4 separate regions of the Homo sapiens genome follow, and regions 2, 3 and 4 are each reported to be linked to region 1. Evidence: microRNA targets listed by miRTarBase, many of them from high-throughput screens and not tested one by one. Region 1 holds a microRNA gene; each other region holds the end of a gene's coding sequence.

Evidence for each region. Region 1 holds the annotated microRNA hsa-miR-2681-3p (UAUCAUGGAGUUGGUAAAGCAC, at 1,877-1,898, opposite strand). A microRNA usually pairs through its seed, bases 2 to 8, with sites in the 3' UTR of a target mRNA and lowers its output. Matches are read on the target gene's strand: a 7mer-m8 pairs with bases 2 to 8, a 7mer-A1 pairs with bases 2 to 7 and ends in A, and an 8mer does both.
Region 2: the mRNA of IGF2R is a reported target of hsa-miR-2681-3p. Seed matches in the 3' UTR shown: 7mer-A1 at 3,026-3,032 and 7mer-A1 at 2,823-2,829.
Region 3: miRTarBase lists BDP1 as a target of hsa-miR-2681-3p. Seed matches in the 3' UTR shown: 7mer-m8 at 1,144-1,150.
Region 4: miRTarBase lists SLC25A42 as a target of hsa-miR-2681-3p. Seed matches in the 3' UTR shown: 7mer-A1 at 2,431-2,437.

Annotation. Positions count from the first base shown.
Region 1 is chr13:101,965,789-101,970,009 of GRCh38, forward strand. It overlaps MIR2681 (microRNA 2681), which reads right to left and starts at 1,958; the gene lies at 1,854-1,958. It also overlaps a transcript of FGF14 not described here.
Region 2 is chr6:160,104,632-160,108,840 of GRCh38, reverse strand. IGF2R (insulin like growth factor 2 receptor) reads right to left here. Exons shown (of 48, transcript NM_000876.4): 48 at 1-4,167. The coding sequence ends at 3,757. Among named protein-coding and RNA genes, the nearest start is that of SLC22A1, 15 kb to the left of the region's middle.
Region 3 is chr5:71,564,142-71,568,362 of GRCh38, reverse strand. It overlaps BDP1 (BDP1 general transcription factor IIIB subunit), which reads right to left. Exons shown (of 39, transcript NM_018429.3): 39 at 543-3,609. The coding sequence ends at 3,478. Among named protein-coding and RNA genes, the nearest start is that of MCCC2, 21 kb to the left of the region's middle.
Region 4 is chr19:19,110,359-19,114,358 of GRCh38, reverse strand. It overlaps SLC25A42 (solute carrier family 25 member 42), which reads right to left. Exons shown (of 8, transcript NM_178526.5): 8 at 1,329-3,790. The coding sequence ends at 3,483. Among named protein-coding and RNA genes, the nearest start is that of TMEM161A, 26 kb to the left of the region's middle. RefSeq lists an enhancer at 1,105-1,399 and a silencer at 3,739-3,928.

The DNA.
Region 1 (4,221 bases):
AGGCAATCAATTTTAAGGAACTGACTTAACCCCAGGATGAGGTTACAGCAAGTTTCCTTCATTTAACACAGTCCAGTCCAAACATTTTTCATGGGCACAACTGAAAAGTGTCACTCCATAAAGAAAAAATAATTGGTAATTTTATACTTTTATAAGAAGTCAGCCAGATGTATCCACACATCACCGTCACCAGAACCACAATCAACTTTTCTATTCCTGTACCTAAATTTTTCTGAGTGCTTAAATATATCCAACAACAGAATTAAGGGGAAGGGAAATGTTCTGGATTGAATTGTGCCCACTCCCTAAAAAATGATAAGTTGAAGTTTTAAACTCCATTTTCTCAGACTGTAAGCTTATTTGAAAACAGGTTCTTCACAAAGGTAAGTGGGTTGAAATGAGGTCATCAGGGTGGGCTCTATTGCCATATAACTGGTGTTCTTATAAAAATGGGAAATTTAGACACAGAGAAAACACACTTATGCAAAAAGAACACCATGAGAAGATGAAGGCAGAAATTGGGGTGATGATTTACGAGACAAAGAATATCAAGGATTGCCAAAGACCAATGGCCACTTGCAGAAACTAGGAAGAGGCAAATACAGACTCTGGAGGGAGCATGGTTCTGCAGAAACCTTGATTTTGGACTCAGATTCCAGAACTGTTAGAGAATAAATCTTGTGGTTTTTTTTGTTTTTGTTTTTGTTTTTTTGAGACAGAGTCTCGCTCTGTCGCCCAGGCTGGAATGCAGTGGTGCCATCTCGCCTCACTGCAACCTCCGCCTCCCAGGTTCAAGCAATTCTCCTTCCTCAGCCTCCTGAGTAGCTGGGATTACAGGTGCCCACCACCACGCCCAGCTAATTTTTGTATTTTTAGTAGAGATGGGGTTTCACCATGTTGGTCAGGCTGGTCTCGAACCCCTGACCTCATGATCCACCCACCTCGGCCTCCCTAAGTGCTGGGATTACAGGCGTCAGCCACCGCGCCTGGCCAAATCATTGTGTTTAAACCACTCAGTTGTTGATGCTTTCTTAGGGACGACCTAGAAATACAGAAGACAGAAGGATCGTGAGACAGTTCGTTATTGTTTGGCGAACTGTAGCTGGACTCCGGCTCATATAATGAAAGAAACTTAAAGGAATGCCTAAGAATATTACTCTACGAGTGTAAGAATTTGGTTTGTCAGTTTAAACTGATATCAGCAGTTACCTAAACCAAGTTTTTTAATAAGAACATCCAGGACTGACATAATGCTATTTTGTTCAGCTCTTTGAAAAACAGCACAAAGCTAGCATCTCTGTGACATTCATTAGGTTCTGTAGCACAACATCCCAGAGGATGCTTTTGGGCTTCCTGCATCTCAGTCACTTAGAATGAACCTTAAAATTCAGATTTTTCAAGGCTCATCCCAAACCTACCGAATCAAAGTGACTTCTTCTGTTGAGTAAGAATGTCTGAGGGTGGAGTGTTCTATTGAGTCAGAATGTCTAAAGTCATTTGTAAACTAATCTCAGATAGATAATCCTTGTATACATTAAGAGAACCACTGTCCTATGTTTACTTGACTGTTTTCATAATGTTTTCCTTCTGATTGTGGTAAAGTTAAAATTGTTTTGAGCTAAATGTGTACCAATATCAGTTTCTGCAGTATAAACAAAGCTTGATTATTTCAAGGTCATGCAGTGAGAACATTTATGCTGTGTGGGAGGAACCTCTAATTCCTTCTAATGAATAACACAAGCAAAATACAAGAAAAACAATGCAAACACTGGAAGGCATAAGTAAGCACATCTGTTTTTAAATGTTCTCCTCTCATTGATTCCTCTAATCAAGGTGCTTCTTTAGATAGCTTACACGTTGAATTATTCATGCATCTGTGCTTTACCAACTCCATGATACTGAAGAGTCTTTGGGCAGTCTCCTGGAGGTGGTAAAACACAAATGCGTGAAAAGGGGGCAGAGAGCATATCTTTGCTCTTGATGTCTTTTTAACCTCTATTGAATCCTCTACAAAACCTATTGCATGGCTTAGACACATTAAACACCCAATAAATTCCTGCTGCCTAATCAGAAGGAAGAAAATCTGATACATGAACACTCCCAGGATAAAATGGGGTGATGGCTTGGACATGCTGGTAACAGAGGTAACATTTTCTATTTCCAAATTGCAAGTTCACCCATAACTGTAATGGAGATGAGTCACTGGGTCAATGGTCATGCTGTAAATTTGTAGCTCTCTGCTAACACTTGAAAATAATTCTTAAAATGATTGTCTTCATTTTATTAGCATGACTGATGACTTGGAAGGGAATCTATAATTGATTACATTCTACAACCAACCTCTGTTACTCAAATGAGTGAAAGTGCAGTTATAAGTAGATAAATCTTGTCTAAGAAATGAAGATAAATTCATATAAATGCATAAAGGTGAAATTGTTATGTAATGGCTATGCCTAATTTATTAAGCATGTCATAATAAGCCTGACAAAAAGTCTAAAAAATATTTTTTGCAAGATACTGAACAGTAACAAAATATTTTACCTGTTGGATGTACAAAATCTTATTTTAACAGCTACTGAACACATTAAAAAAAATACAGCTTAGGCTGGGCGTGGTGGCTCATGCCTGTAATCCCAGCACTTTGGGAGACCGAGGCAGGCGGATCATGAGGTCAGGAGATCGAGACCATCCTGACTAACATGGTGAAACCCCGTCTCCACTAAAAATACAAAAAATTAGCCAGGCGTGGTGGCAGGCGCCTGCAGTCCCAGCTACTCGGGAGGCTGAGGCAGGAGAATGGCGTGAACCTGGGAGACGGAGCTTGCAGTGAGCTGAGATCGTGCCACTGCAATCCAGCCTGGGCGACAGAGCGAGACTCCGTCTCCAAAAAAAAAAAAAAAAACCTCAATATCAATATTTCCTGTATTTTATACTTAAGAATACCACAATTACAAAAGTCACAGCCACAAAAGTGTGAGATCATACAGCTGCCAGACTAAGTGTTCCCCCACAACTCTTTTAACTCACTTTTCATTTGTTCTGTAATCATGCATTCCATCAACAGCCTTTTTTTTTTTTTTTTTTAAATCTGGGCATTGTTTGAGTTGAAAAAAGCTGGGGGTTTGGAAGCAGGGAGGGTACTTTAAGGAAGATGGGTTTTTATCACCAGGTCACTTTCCATCCACAATTCCTTGGTATGGACAGAAGAGAAGGGCATGCCTAGAGCCTGAAGCTAGCACAGAACTCACTAGTTGAAAGAAACAAGGATGGTCAGTGGAAGGGGAGGTAAGGAAAATCTGGCCAGTGGGCTCCATGCCTTGGAGTCATGCTTAGATCCACCTTTGTGAAGGGGTGGACTGCCTAGGTCTTCATAACTACCTGTGCCAGCACTTAGCTCATAGTTGTCACTTATCATGGGTGGGTAAGTTACCAAATAAACAACTTCATCTGGTCTGGTTACTGGGGATTGAAGGATAAGAAACGGTATAGTCTAGGCTGGGTGCAGTGGCTCACGCCTGTAATCCCAGCACTTTGGGAGGCCGAGGTGGGCGGATCACAAGGTCAGGAGATCGAGACCATCCTGGCTAACACGGTGAATCCCCGTCTCTACTAAAAATAACAAAAAAAAAGAAATGGTATAGTCTAGTGTTTCTGGCTGTTAGTCATTGGTAAAGCCAAAATACTCCTGCCTTTGAAGTTTCCTGATGCCTTCTAAACATTATATTTCAATCTGGTGAAGGAATAGGGCTCTAATGAGTCATTTGTGAAACCCTAATCAATAGCCTTGTGGTCTCCCTCATTTCTTATTATCATTGCACACACTACATCCACATGACTGCTTGTAAGACTATTTTTCACCGTAAATTGAACTCAAAATTTGCATATTTCTACCAATTTTAAATTTTGGCTTATGTTACATTTTGTATGAACAAGTTGCTGCCTAGAGTAGAAAAGTGGCATCCAATTAGAAAAAAGGAATTTTTATTTGATGAGGCCCTGAGTTGTGATGACTGGGGTGAAAGGAGAGGTTGGGTGGAGGTTGCTCTATTGTTCTAGTCTACAAAACACCCCATATCTTGACAATGAGTGCCTTTAAAGGGCAAAAACTGAGTGTTCATTTCTTTTAAGTATTCCTGCCGGTAGCAAACATTCGTAATTTATGGGTCAGAACATTTCAGATGCTTTCTCTTCTGGCCTTATTGTCATCTGCCTTATAGCAAT
Region 2 (4,209 bases), not on the chromosome of region 1:
CGTGGCAGTGCGTGCCTTTAATCCCAGCTACTAGGGAGGCTGAGGCAGGAGAATCCCTTGAACCCGGGAGGCAGAGATTGCAGTGAGCCGAGATCATGCCACTGCACTCCAGCCTGGCAACAGAGCGAGACTCCATCTCGAAAGAAAGAGAGAAAGAAAAAGAGAGAGAGAGAAAAGGAAAGAAAGAAAGAGGAAAAAGGAAGGAAAGGAAAGGAATGAAAGGAAGGAAACGAAGGAAAGAAAGACCTGACTTCCTCCCAGAGAGAGCCTCGCAGGCAGTCTGAGGCTTCTCAGCTCAGCACAGCCACAGCTCCCATGCCCAACCTCCCATCTGGTTGCTGAAGCGTCTCCATCTCTTTACTTTCATCTAGACTATCTTGCTCAAAAGCCCAATCTGGCCCTCCTACAGCTCTCAACTGCTTTCAGGACTTCAAACTCCTTACTGTGACAGTCACAACAGGCTCCAAGTTCTGGGCTTGCTTCTGCCTTACCTATCCAACACCCCCAGGCCATACTGTCCCCAACTCAATGTGGCTATCTTGCCGCCTTGCACACAAGCTCACCTGCACCACGACTGCCCGTTGACCCCATTCTCACAGAACAATGTCCAGAACTGACAGCAAGTATGGCTCAAGAGGCCAACTACTAGTCAACAGAGTGGAACCGGAGAAGTAAGAAAGGACATGAGTGTACCTCCCTGAGCCATGGGATTCTTCAGAGTCAGTAAAGGATATTTCCAGAAATCCAGTCTCGTCCATACAACCTCCTGGTGACACACACACTGGCTCCTTGTGACCCGATCGCCAACAGGGGTAAGACCTGTGTACCCATCAGTGCTTTAACTTGTACAATGGATCGGACCAGCCCAAAGTGTTCTTTAATCACCAGGTGGCATCTTAGTCGTGTGAAGGTCCTTGTTTGTAGGAATGCCTGGTGATGGGAAGAAACTTCATCTCAAATGATTCAGGGAAAAAGAGTTCTTTGTCCTGTAAGTTCTAATGTCTATATGTTGTCTCCTGTCTGTATGTCTATATGTTCCTTCCTGAGGAATCATCTCGTGTTACGTATTATTTTAGGGTTGGTGAAGTACAGGCTTCAGATGCTCTTAAAATGTTCATAAGAACCAGATTTCCACTTCACTGTGGATTTCCTTGGTGTGGGGTTTGCCTATTCCATCTTTAGCACCCCAGTTCTTATTCTATGTCTCTGTCATTCATGGACAGTCTCAAGAAAGGGGCACAAAAAATTTTGTTGAAAGGAAGCTAAATACCCAGGTTGTACTCCATCAATAAAATCATTTCTCTGAAAAAGAGTCCAATTCTGATTTGCTGTCACGGGATGTTTTCCTAAAAATATCATCTGTAACAACAGCTGGCAAGTAGTTACTCTTTTTTCAGAGGCTTGGGTTTCTAAGAGTCAAAGCAAATGCACTCAAACGTGTTGTCACTTCTCCTTCCCCACTGACAGCGACATTAGCAGGCAGCCAGTGGTGCAGACAACATGCCTTTTTGCCATCCAGCTTACCAAGGGGATGGGCAGGTCCCTGCATATGCCCCTCCTTACAGAGAGGGCTCCCCATGGTCTTAGCAGGAGGTGGGAATGGCCTGGAGAACAGCCCCCTGGGTAGAATGCCTGAGGACCAGCATCTTTCTTTGGTCATAATGTAAACTTTTAGAAGACCTGACATGTCTTCCTCAGGAGAGGTATTGGAAAGTCCTTAAGAATAACTTTTTTAAAAAGGTAACTCCAATTGGATAATTTAAAAATGAGACGGTTGAGGTTTTTGGACTCTACAGGAAAAAAAAAGGGATGGAGAATAGGATGTTGAGTCTAAGAAGTTTGTTTATAACACTGGAGTAACTTCCTGCTTCCATGCAGGTAGCTCTCAGTCACTGCTGAGTAATTTAAGATGGAAAACTCAGTGAGTTTACTCAAGAGAAAACATCTCCATGTTAGATCAGGTTGCACAAAAAAAAGCTTTATTGACTCACTGGACTCTAAACTCCATGTTCATTGTTTTGATGAACAGGACCACACCCCGAGGTTGGCCTGGAGAAGGTAAAGAAATCGGATCTAGAAAGAGCCAAGGGAAGGCAGATTGGACCCAAAGTTAACACCTACGACCAGGAGACTCTGGAGAAAAATGAAAGTGCTGCCTCATAAAGGGTCAACGAGAACACCAGAGTTAAAACCCAAATTCAGTCACTTAACAGAAAGAAAAGACAGGCAGGCAGATGGGTAACTCGCTCGGGAACGTCTCACTATCAAGGAAAAAATGGTAACACCCAATTAATAATTTATCTTTTATTGAAATTGTTGAATACTTTATATTACAGTAAAGTTGATTGAAAAAAAAATGAAGAGAAAAATCAATTTTAAAAAATACACTCATGTTGAAATCAAACAAGCCAGCCAAACCGGTACAGGCTGAGGGATGCTGCAGGGCGGTTTGCTTCTCAGCAATAGAACACCAGAGTCTATATACAATTCTACAATGCGAGAAAAGTCATTCACTAAACATGGCAGGAAAGGCGCTGCCGCCAGAATAAGAACACCAGCAGCGCCTCCCTCCTCCTCCATGCTGTGACCGCCCGGCCTCCCTCCTCCTCCACGCCATGCCCGCCTGGCCTCCCTCCTCCTCCGCGCTGTACCCGCCCAGCCTCCCTCCAGCATGAGGCCAAGTGCAATGCTAGGGCCGAGGCTCTGGCCCATGATTTTTCATGCAGTTTCTGTAAGTCACACACTGTGCAAATTAAGGCTTCTTATAGGTCGAATGGTTGATCAACACTTTTTTCTTAAAAAAATAAGCACAGTAAAGGTGGTATCATGAGAACCTGAAGAGATGAGACCTATACCCCAAATCTGGAAAAAATTCATTTTCTCTGACACCTCAACTCCACTCACACACACACACACACACACACACACACACACAAACACACAAATCAATCTTTGGGCAGGTTGTTTGAATTCACCAGCCGGCAAAAATACTGACAAATGTGCTCTGTACGCCCAGGCTTGAAGATATCATGCAAAAAGGTGCAGCCATTCCTGACTAAAGGCATAGAACAGGCAAACTCTCCAAAACCTAGGCACTCGGGGACCCTGTGCACGTATGTGTGTGTGTGCTCGCACGCACGTGTGTGTGCCCTTAAGAAACAGAAAGCAAAAGAGAAAAGAGACAGAATGAGCTCCAACTCAGGGGACACATTAATGACCAGTTCAACATCCCGCCGGAAGCTGCCCCATACACTGACAGCCTCACCATCTCAAGATGGACAAACTGGTACATCACACCCCTGCTGGCAGGAAGAAACGGTGGCTGTTTTTTTTTCCTTTTTCTCAAACCTGAGTAATTGTCAAAGTCAATAAATAGGGGGAGAGAATTAAAATGCTAAAATATATCGGGGTCAAATACCCTATCGGGACTAAAGCAGCAAGGGTTTCTTCGAATGCAGCCCTCTGTTTTGAGATGCGTCCGGCCTTATGCTTTTAAATGAGGACTTGGGGCAAAACCCTGGGCACAAGGTACCGCCCTGTGGCCGATCTGAGCCATGCCTTATTCCAATGACTGTAAACAATCAGGAAGGAGTGGGGCCTGACCTCCTTCACCCTCTCCCCCATCACAAAAACTCTTCCCTTTTGAAAGTTTCTGTTAAAGGCAAAATTATAGAAGCATCATCGAGTGGAAGTCTTATTTGGTTGGAGGTGCTTGGCTGTCCCGCGGCTCCGTGCTCCCCTGCAGGCACTGCGGAGTCAGATGTGTAAGAGGTCCTCGTCGCTGTCGTCATGGAAGGACACCAGCTTGGTGGAGCTCACTGTCTTCTGCTGTGCAGAGCTGGACTTCCCTTTCCTCGCCTTCTCACCCCTGACCAGCCCCACCCTATCGTCCTCACGCTCCTGAAGGGCATTGCTCTGTGCGTTTCTCACTGGGTGGGAGCTCTCTGCCCCAGCTCCCCTGCCCGAGTGAACTTTCACCTCTGGGATGGTCAGAACCTCATCCTCACTGTCCTGGTCATCCCCATGCAGGGAGCTGAGGGCTTTCACTGACTTGGTGGTAATATGGCCGTTCTCCTGCCCTTCCTTTCCCTGCCGTGGAGGAGGCAGCTGGATCTCTTCCATCAGCCACTCTGTTTCATTCTCATCTGTCTCTTCTTCCTTATTCACCTGCCAGGGATCAACAGCAGAGACCACGTGAGCCCCCTAAGA
Region 3 (4,221 bases), not on the chromosome of region 1:
ACCCCAACCTACTTACTGGGTAGCCCGTAAGACTGCCGATTTTTAGTGAAACCCAATGTAAGACAGGGCTCTCCAGCAGATTCAGGATGCGATGCTGCAGCAAACAGAGATGCTGTGTGGAGTCTCTTCCAAATACTATTAGGACAATCACATTGCAGACTCCTACAGCTTTGAAATAACGACATGCACACCTGTCAAAAATTTGTCTCCTCCCCACAAAGACAGGGTCTTCTTCTGTCATCCAGGCTGGAGTGTGGTGGGGCAATCACAGCTCACTGCAGCCTCAACCTCCTCCTGGGCTCAAGCGAACCTCTCATCCCAGCCTCCTGAGTAACTGGGACCAAAAGCACACACCACCACAGTTGGCTGATTTTTAATTTTTTTGTAGAGATGAGGTCTCATTATGTTGCCCAGGCTGGTCTTGAACTCCTGGGCTCAAGCAATCCTCCCACCTCGGCCTCCGAAAGTGCTGGGATTACAGGTGTAAGCCACGATACCCAGCCAATTCTTTATTTAGTCATCTTAAAAGGACACAACAGAAATGATATAAAATAACTTTTATTTACATAATTTATATATATATATAACTGCTTTCTTTAGAACAAGAAAATTTATAAATGACATGATATTGCTTTTTCTGTCAAAGACTTCTTCAAGCAAGATAGTATACATGGTCACTTTTGTTTCAAATAACATGATGGTAAACAGTGGATATTAATATTTTTGTCATGCCTCAACCATTTACCAACAATTAGGCGTTCAAATCCTCATGTTGACCACTTGCTAAGACATAAGTGTTCAGGAGAAAAAGTCAAGAAAAGATAAAAACTTTTACTCATATCTCCTTTAAAATTTGTGAAATAAATCCTTTGCAACATCTTCTTCACATGAATCAGACCTAACATAGTTCTTTCCAACATGTAAGGTAAATACATTGATTAACTTTCTCTTTTCCAAAATTAGGTTTAAGGATTTAACAGTAGGATACTTTAGCTGGCTGACTTGATTCTCTAATACAATGAGTCTCTGTATTCTTTATATAGTAAGAAATTCCATTTTCCATAAAACTAGCTCATTATAGATTAAAAAGAAACAGATGTTAAAGTTAAAAACTAATATTACACAAGGATAAATAATAGTTTAATCATGGCAATCTAACTCCCAAGCTAACACTAAGAGAATGAAATCTTTTCAGAATATGAGTTTTAAAAACTTACAAAAACAGGGTATTCAAATAGCAATGTGATTTACTACCATGATTTCTGTGACATATCAATCATGAAATAAATGCCTACTTATAGACAATTTCCGCTCCGAATTATATAGCCTCCTCTCTGACAAAGTGTTACGCCATAAATTTCACTAAAAGACAATGAATAAGAAGTGCTCTAACAGCAGTAGTTTCAATAAATTAGCATTACTGTTATATGTGCTGAGACATAATTCTCTTCTATTAAGGAACTTAAAAACTGGCCACCATTTTTTCAATATACAAACATAATTATCTAGACTCTAAAATATCTTCCCAACTGAAATACTGATCATTACATAATACAGTCAACAGTTTTAACTTTTAGGCACAACTCATAACTTTAGTGACAAATAACTCATCCATACAGATATCAGCACCTCAGGGTAAGAAAATTTGGGGCCTAATGTAGGGGGTCAAACTAAAAGGCCAATCCAGCCACAGTCCTTCATTCAAGTACTGTCTATGGCTTCTTTCACACTGAAATTGCAGAGCTGAGTAGCTGCCACAGAGACCATCTGGCCTGCAAACCCAAAACAGTTTGCAGAAAGTTTCCAATGCCTGAGCTACTATACTATCAATCCAAGAGGCTTTTCAAATAAAATCAGGATAAATTTGCTGTTTGAGAAGTCTAATTGGAACCACTACAGATCTGCTTGGGTAGATAATAGAATTACACGTATAAAAAATCAAATCTTGAAATTAAAACAAACCTTAAATTCATACTGATGATAATCATTAACTTTATAAAGCCTTATTTTCTCTGTTTTTAACATCATGATTATGTTCCGTGCTTAAAGATCCAAGTGTTCCTTGAGAATTTAATGGGAAAAAACTATGAAGAAATTGGCTTTTTAAAAACTAATATTATGTCTGTGGGTGTATAAAGGAGATTGAGCTTTGTATGGAAATTTTGTCTCATAAATAAAGTTGAGTTCCCCCTATCCTCATGAAAATCCTGAGATTATCCAAGAAAAGCAGAAAAATTTACAGTACAAAGTCAATATACTAAACTGAGGGGAAAAAGGTATTCAAAACATATACACCAGCTAAACATTTTTAGTTATATCATTTTAAATATCTTTAAAATTAAACAGAAAAAGGAGACAAACATAAATTTAATGCCTTCTTTATCTACAATCTGAGGGGTAAAAATAGCTAAAACTGAATATCCTTTTAAATAAAAAATTTAAAAATAAATAAGCCCTTTGATGTGTCATCTTTATAAATAATTATGTTTAAATACTAGTTTTTCAATTAGGACTAATGTTACATCACCATGAATTAGAAAAATATGTATTTTTCAGTCAGACAAACAGCTGATAATAGAAAAGTTCTTTAACATTTGCCATACTAAAGTGAAGTTTGACAATTTGTTTTCACATATAGTCACGTGTCCCTTAACTACATGTTCTAAGAATTGCCTTGTTAGGTGATCTTGTGTGAAACAACGCAGAGTGTACTTACAAACACTGAGATGGTACAGGCTGCTACACACCGTACAGACTGAGGCTATGTGGTATAGCCTATTGCTCCTCGGCTACAAACCTCTACAATGTGTTACTATGCTGAATACTGTAGGCAGTTGTAACACAATAGTAAGTATTTGTGTATCTAAACATATCTAAACATAAAAAAGCAATGCACTGTGTTATGATGGCTATAATGTCACTAGTTGATAGGAATTTATCTCCATTTTAATTGCATGGGACCACTGTAATATATGTGGTCCATCATTGACTTAAACTTCATTATGTGATACATGACTGTACTTAGAAGCAAATGAAAAAGCCTTCATCCTTCATCATCTCCCCCTAAAAATAAAAAATCTTCACAAAAGAAGTTGCTAAATGTTAAATATGATACAATTAACCCCCAAATCTGTCTGCACTGCAATTCATACAGAGACATATATCCACAACATTCCCAAATGTCCATGTGTGCTTAGCACAGGAAGAGTCAAAATGTAAACAAGAGTTGTTATTTCTGTCTGAGAAAGCAGTCTTAATTGCTTGCTATTTGCAAAATGCTGAATCAGTCAGAATGAAAGGAACCTCAGAAATGTTTTCCACTGATTATAAAAGCTTCAAATCAAGCTCATTAAGTATTCAAAATCAACCTAAAGAAAAATAAGACAGTGATATTTTGCTCTAAATACTGTTTTGTTGATGTAATTGACTCTGGAAATCCTAGACCTAATTTAAAAAAGAAAAAGAGAAAAGATTGTTTTATTCTGTTTCATCCACTTCAATGAAGATATCATTGAAGAAATATTCAGAGACTGTGGTTGCCTCCCCTTGAGGGGCCCGCTTTTGGGCACTTTTATATCCTTCTTTCAGTAAGGGCTGATCACAAGAAACCTAAAAAGGTAATAAAAATAAAGTAAAAATAAAACTGTAATACAACATTTATATATATATGTGTGTGTATATATAGCAGTCTAAACCAATATGATCTGTTTGAAAAGCAACGTGGCAATAAATATTGAGCTTTAAATATGTTCACAATCACTGACCCAAAAATTTCACTTCTATGCTGTTACATTAAGTAAATAATCCTAAACATAGTAGGAGTTTTATGACTAAGATAACCTTTGTAGCATTAGTTATAATAATAAAATAGGAAGCAACTAAATATACCACACTAGATATAATTAGGTAAATTACAGTGTACCCATAATCCATTACTTCATCCTAATTTCCATGAAAAATTTTAATAAAGAAAAATATAATATGGTTAAATCTGTCACTAAATAAAGTAAAAATACTTTAATTATTTGCATAATAGACAGACCCATGACAAAACAGCACCTAAAGAAAACATATCAAAGATACCTTATCAGAAATTAGCATACTTACAAATCTATAAACAAATTAAGACAGCATGGTATTGGCACACGAATGACAGATATATCAATGAAACAGAAGACTAGAAATAACCCCAATATATATAGAAATTTAGCATCTGATAAA
Region 4 (4,000 bases), not on the chromosome of region 1:
ACTACGCACGCACGGTTCCCCGACTGCCCCACTTTTCCCCACGTCTCTGACCACCTTGCTCCTCTATCCCTTAAATATTCCTAAAATCCCATCTTCAGGGAGGCGGATTTGAGATCTGTTCTCCTGTCTCCTCACTCGGCTGCCTCGTGAATAAACTCTTTGCTGCAAAACCTGTCATCTCTGTTGGCATACTGCTGGGCAGAACGAGCCTGGTTTGGTAACATAAGGGAGGCGTGAATTTCTGAGTGGCTGGGACTACAGGCACGCACCTCCAAGACTGGCTAATTAAAAAAAAATTTTTTTTTGAGACGGAGACTTCTCAGTCACTCAGGCTGGAGTGCAGCGGCTCACTGCAACCTCCGCCTCCCAGGTTCAAGCAATTCTCCTGCCTCAGCCTCCTGAGTAGCTAGGATTTTTGTACTTTTAATAGAGATGGGGGTTTCAGCATGTTGGCCAGGCTGGTCTTGAACTCCTGACCTCAAGTGATCCACCTGCCCTGGCCTCCCAAAGTGATGGGATTAAAGGCGTGAGCCACTGCATCCGGCCTAATTTTTCTATTTTTTTGTAGAGATGGGGGGTCTTACTGTGTTGCCTAGGCTGGTCTCAAACTCCTGGGCTCAAGCAAGCCACCTGCCTCAGTCTCCAAAGTGCTGGGATTACAGGCATGAGCCACCACACCCACCCTGGTAAATGTCATCCTGGGGATCCTCTAGGAGAAAACCGCACAGCTGCTGAACAATGTGCACAACGGAGACCAACTCAAAAGAAATCCTGTTGCACGTGAGCAGATTGGAGAGCAGTGGGGGGTCAGCGCAGTGGAACTTATTCCTACTCCCACCCCAACAAGAGCACCAGGCCTGTGCTGGCCCAGCCGCCCCTCCTCTCTGGGCACGCAGAGGCTCCCACTTCTGGCCTGGCAGTGGGTGGGTCCTCCAAGTTGCTCTGGCCAATGGGCTGCAGGTGAAGTGAGCCAGGATTGCCACTGGAGACCCTCTGGTGGCTGCCCCTGCAGATGGTGACTGACGTTCAGGCCTGAAGCCTCAGCCAGCCCCAGAGTGCAGGGCTCTTGGGAAGGAAGGCCATGTTCAAGCCCATGAGACTTTGGGCTGTGCTGGCTGCACAGAGACGGCCCCTCCTGCCTTTGTGGGTGGCCACATATATCCTGAAAGGGATGAGTGTATGCACAGAATCTCTGTGGGAGGAGACAAGAGAAAATGGTCACAGGAGGCCCCCTGCAGAGGGAACTGTTCACCTACTTTTCACTGTAAACCCTTGTGGACAGCTGGTGTTTTCTGGAAAATTGTGGTATGTATTAATTCAAACAACAATTGCATTTAAAAACTTCTTTATTCAAGACTTTTATTCAGAACTTTTATCACAAATGTGTCAAAAGCACTTCAACCCTGTTTGGGGGTTCATGGGGGAAGATGGGGGGGCGGTCAGAGCCAAAGAAGAGCCAGGAGCAGGAGAAGAAGTCATTTAAGTTTTTATTAAATATACTCTCTTGGCACAAATCTTTAAAATATATAAACATTAGATATAAACAGTGTCTTCATGGCATCAAAATATAACTCCAGACCAAGACCAGTGACCAGCAGGGAGGCGAGTGACCGCAGAGCCTGAGGGCCTGGCTGTGTGCAGGGGTGGGGGACAGCACTGTCCCCAACTCCTGCCGGGTCCCACTCAGCTAGGAGCCATCTCCGGGGAGACACACTGGGGTCAGCAGGGACTGGGGGACCCTCCCACCTACCCCTTGTCTCTCCTGCCTAGCCTGTGGCCCCAAATCCACTCATTTGGTCTCACCCACCTGGGGCAGACCCCCAATTCCTACTGCTGTTGCATGCTTGTGGGAGTTGGGTGCCCTCCCATCTCCCTGTGAGGGTTGCCCTGCCTCTCCTGCCAAGTTTAAGTGCTGGGTAAGGGATACCCACACAGTGGGACAGCCCCTCACAGCCATCACAGGCTGCCTGGGCCTCTGGGGACAAGATCAGGGATGGCTGGTGGCCACATGCAAGGAAGGCAGAGAGAGCGGTCTGCACACCTGCAGGTCCAAGGCAAGAACAGGAGGAGGACAGAAGGAAGGGAAATGAAGTCACGACTGGAGATGAACAAGCTCAGATCCCTTCACACAGCGTGTGCTGAGCCAGCTGTCGAAAGCAACACTCACGGTCACGCTCACCCTGGCACCAGGCAGACCAGTCAGGGGTTCGATGTGAATAGATCATAGACCCGGGGTCAGCCAAGTTGAAAACCAAAACAAAACAAACAAAAAAAAGAAATCAAGAAACTCACCATGTCATTAGGAAATGGGTGTTTCTGAGTCCCTGTGATAGCTGGCGGGCCCTGGGGGACTCCTCTGAGAGACCAGTTAGCTGGGGGTTCCCCTGGGTACCTCAGATTTTCCTCACCTCCCACCCCCAAGCTATACTCTATCATGAGGCTCCCACTTCGGGGGATTGAGGCTAGCAGGCACCCCATGCTCCATTTCATAGAAACTGAACAACCCCTGTGGGCTTTAAATTGCTCCATATCCCAGCCAAGTGCCTGCTCAAGTGGGGACCCAAGGACCTGCTGGATACCACAGCTGGGCAGAGGGTTGGGGCACTGAGATGCTAGGCCTGGGGGGCTTCTGGGCCAAAGGAGGTGGTTTGTGTGCTCACATTTCAGCAGATGCCCCAGGATGCAGGTCTGACCCAAACCTGAGGCAGTTCCGTGTCATGGCCTGGGCCTCGAGCCCTGCTGTGCAGAGCAAGCATGAATCTCCTGGGAAGGTTACAAAGCAGGTGGGCATGGGCAGGCAACTCTAGGGGGAGATGCACTCTTGGGGACCCAGCTGCTTGCAGGGTCTAGGATAGACATGAGGCTCTGGGGGACACTGTTCCCAGCAGGAGGCTCTAGTGACTGAGGAGTCGTGGCCATGTGGGAAATACTGGAGAAGGCAGGGCCGGCAGGGTGGGGTGGGCCAGGGGCTGCATTTGTGGCCAAAGCTGAGCACGAGGCTGGCCCCATCCTGGGCAGGGTCCGCCTGCAAGAAAGGCGCCCCCGCACCCTGGAGGCCGGGCAGGCACGTGGAGTCAGAACAAGAAGGTCCAGGCGCGGTCTGGCTCTGAGCCTGGTGGGGACAGGGGTCACTAGAATCAGCAGCATGTCGGAGGACACACAGGATCAGGAGGTGGAGCTGACCACGCCCCACTAGGGCCTTTTGGGCAACACCTCCGGCAGACAGCGCCAGCGTCTGCAGAGGAAGGAAGAGGGGAGCTGCGGGACCCCCCACACCATCGCCCCAACACTGCACTTCCAGGGCTGCCAGCTTTGCGTTTGGACGTGGACTCTGAGCCCAGGCCCCTCAGGCCCACCTGCTCGTTCCATAAAGCGCCCCATGTGCCTCCTGAAGTAGAATCAAGCGCACCCCCCCACCGTTCCATGGGCCCAGAATACAAAGGGGTCACCGGTCCACCGTCCTGAGAGCAGCTCAGGGTCCCCTAGCTCTGCAGGTGCCGCAGCAGGATCTGCATGAGGTCGAAGGTGGTGAAGCTGATGCCCACGGCGATGGGACCCTTGACCCAGTTCATGCTCAAGCCTTTGTAGAGGCCGCGCACGGCGCCCTCCTCCCGCACGATGGTGCGCAGCGTGCGGGCGATGGAGGCGCGCGGGTAGCCCGTGACGCCGGCCGTCTGCATGCGCCGCCGCACCACATCCAGCGGGTACGAGGCCGACTGCCCGATGAGGCCAGCGCAGGCGCCGAAGATCATGCGCTCGAAGGGGTAGGGCTGCCGGCGGCCGCTGTACTCTGCAGGGCGAGGGGCGGGAGGGCCGTGAAGGCGCCGCGAGGGGGCGCGCACCCCGCACCCGTGCGCGCGCCTTTGCACCCCTAGGAGCAACCTGCGTGCACATACACACATGCACTTGCACCCCCACGTGTGTTCGCACTCATGCGCACCCACACGCCCCACTGCCTCACCTCCGGGTCGCTCCTTTCACTCAAACTCGAGAAATAAAA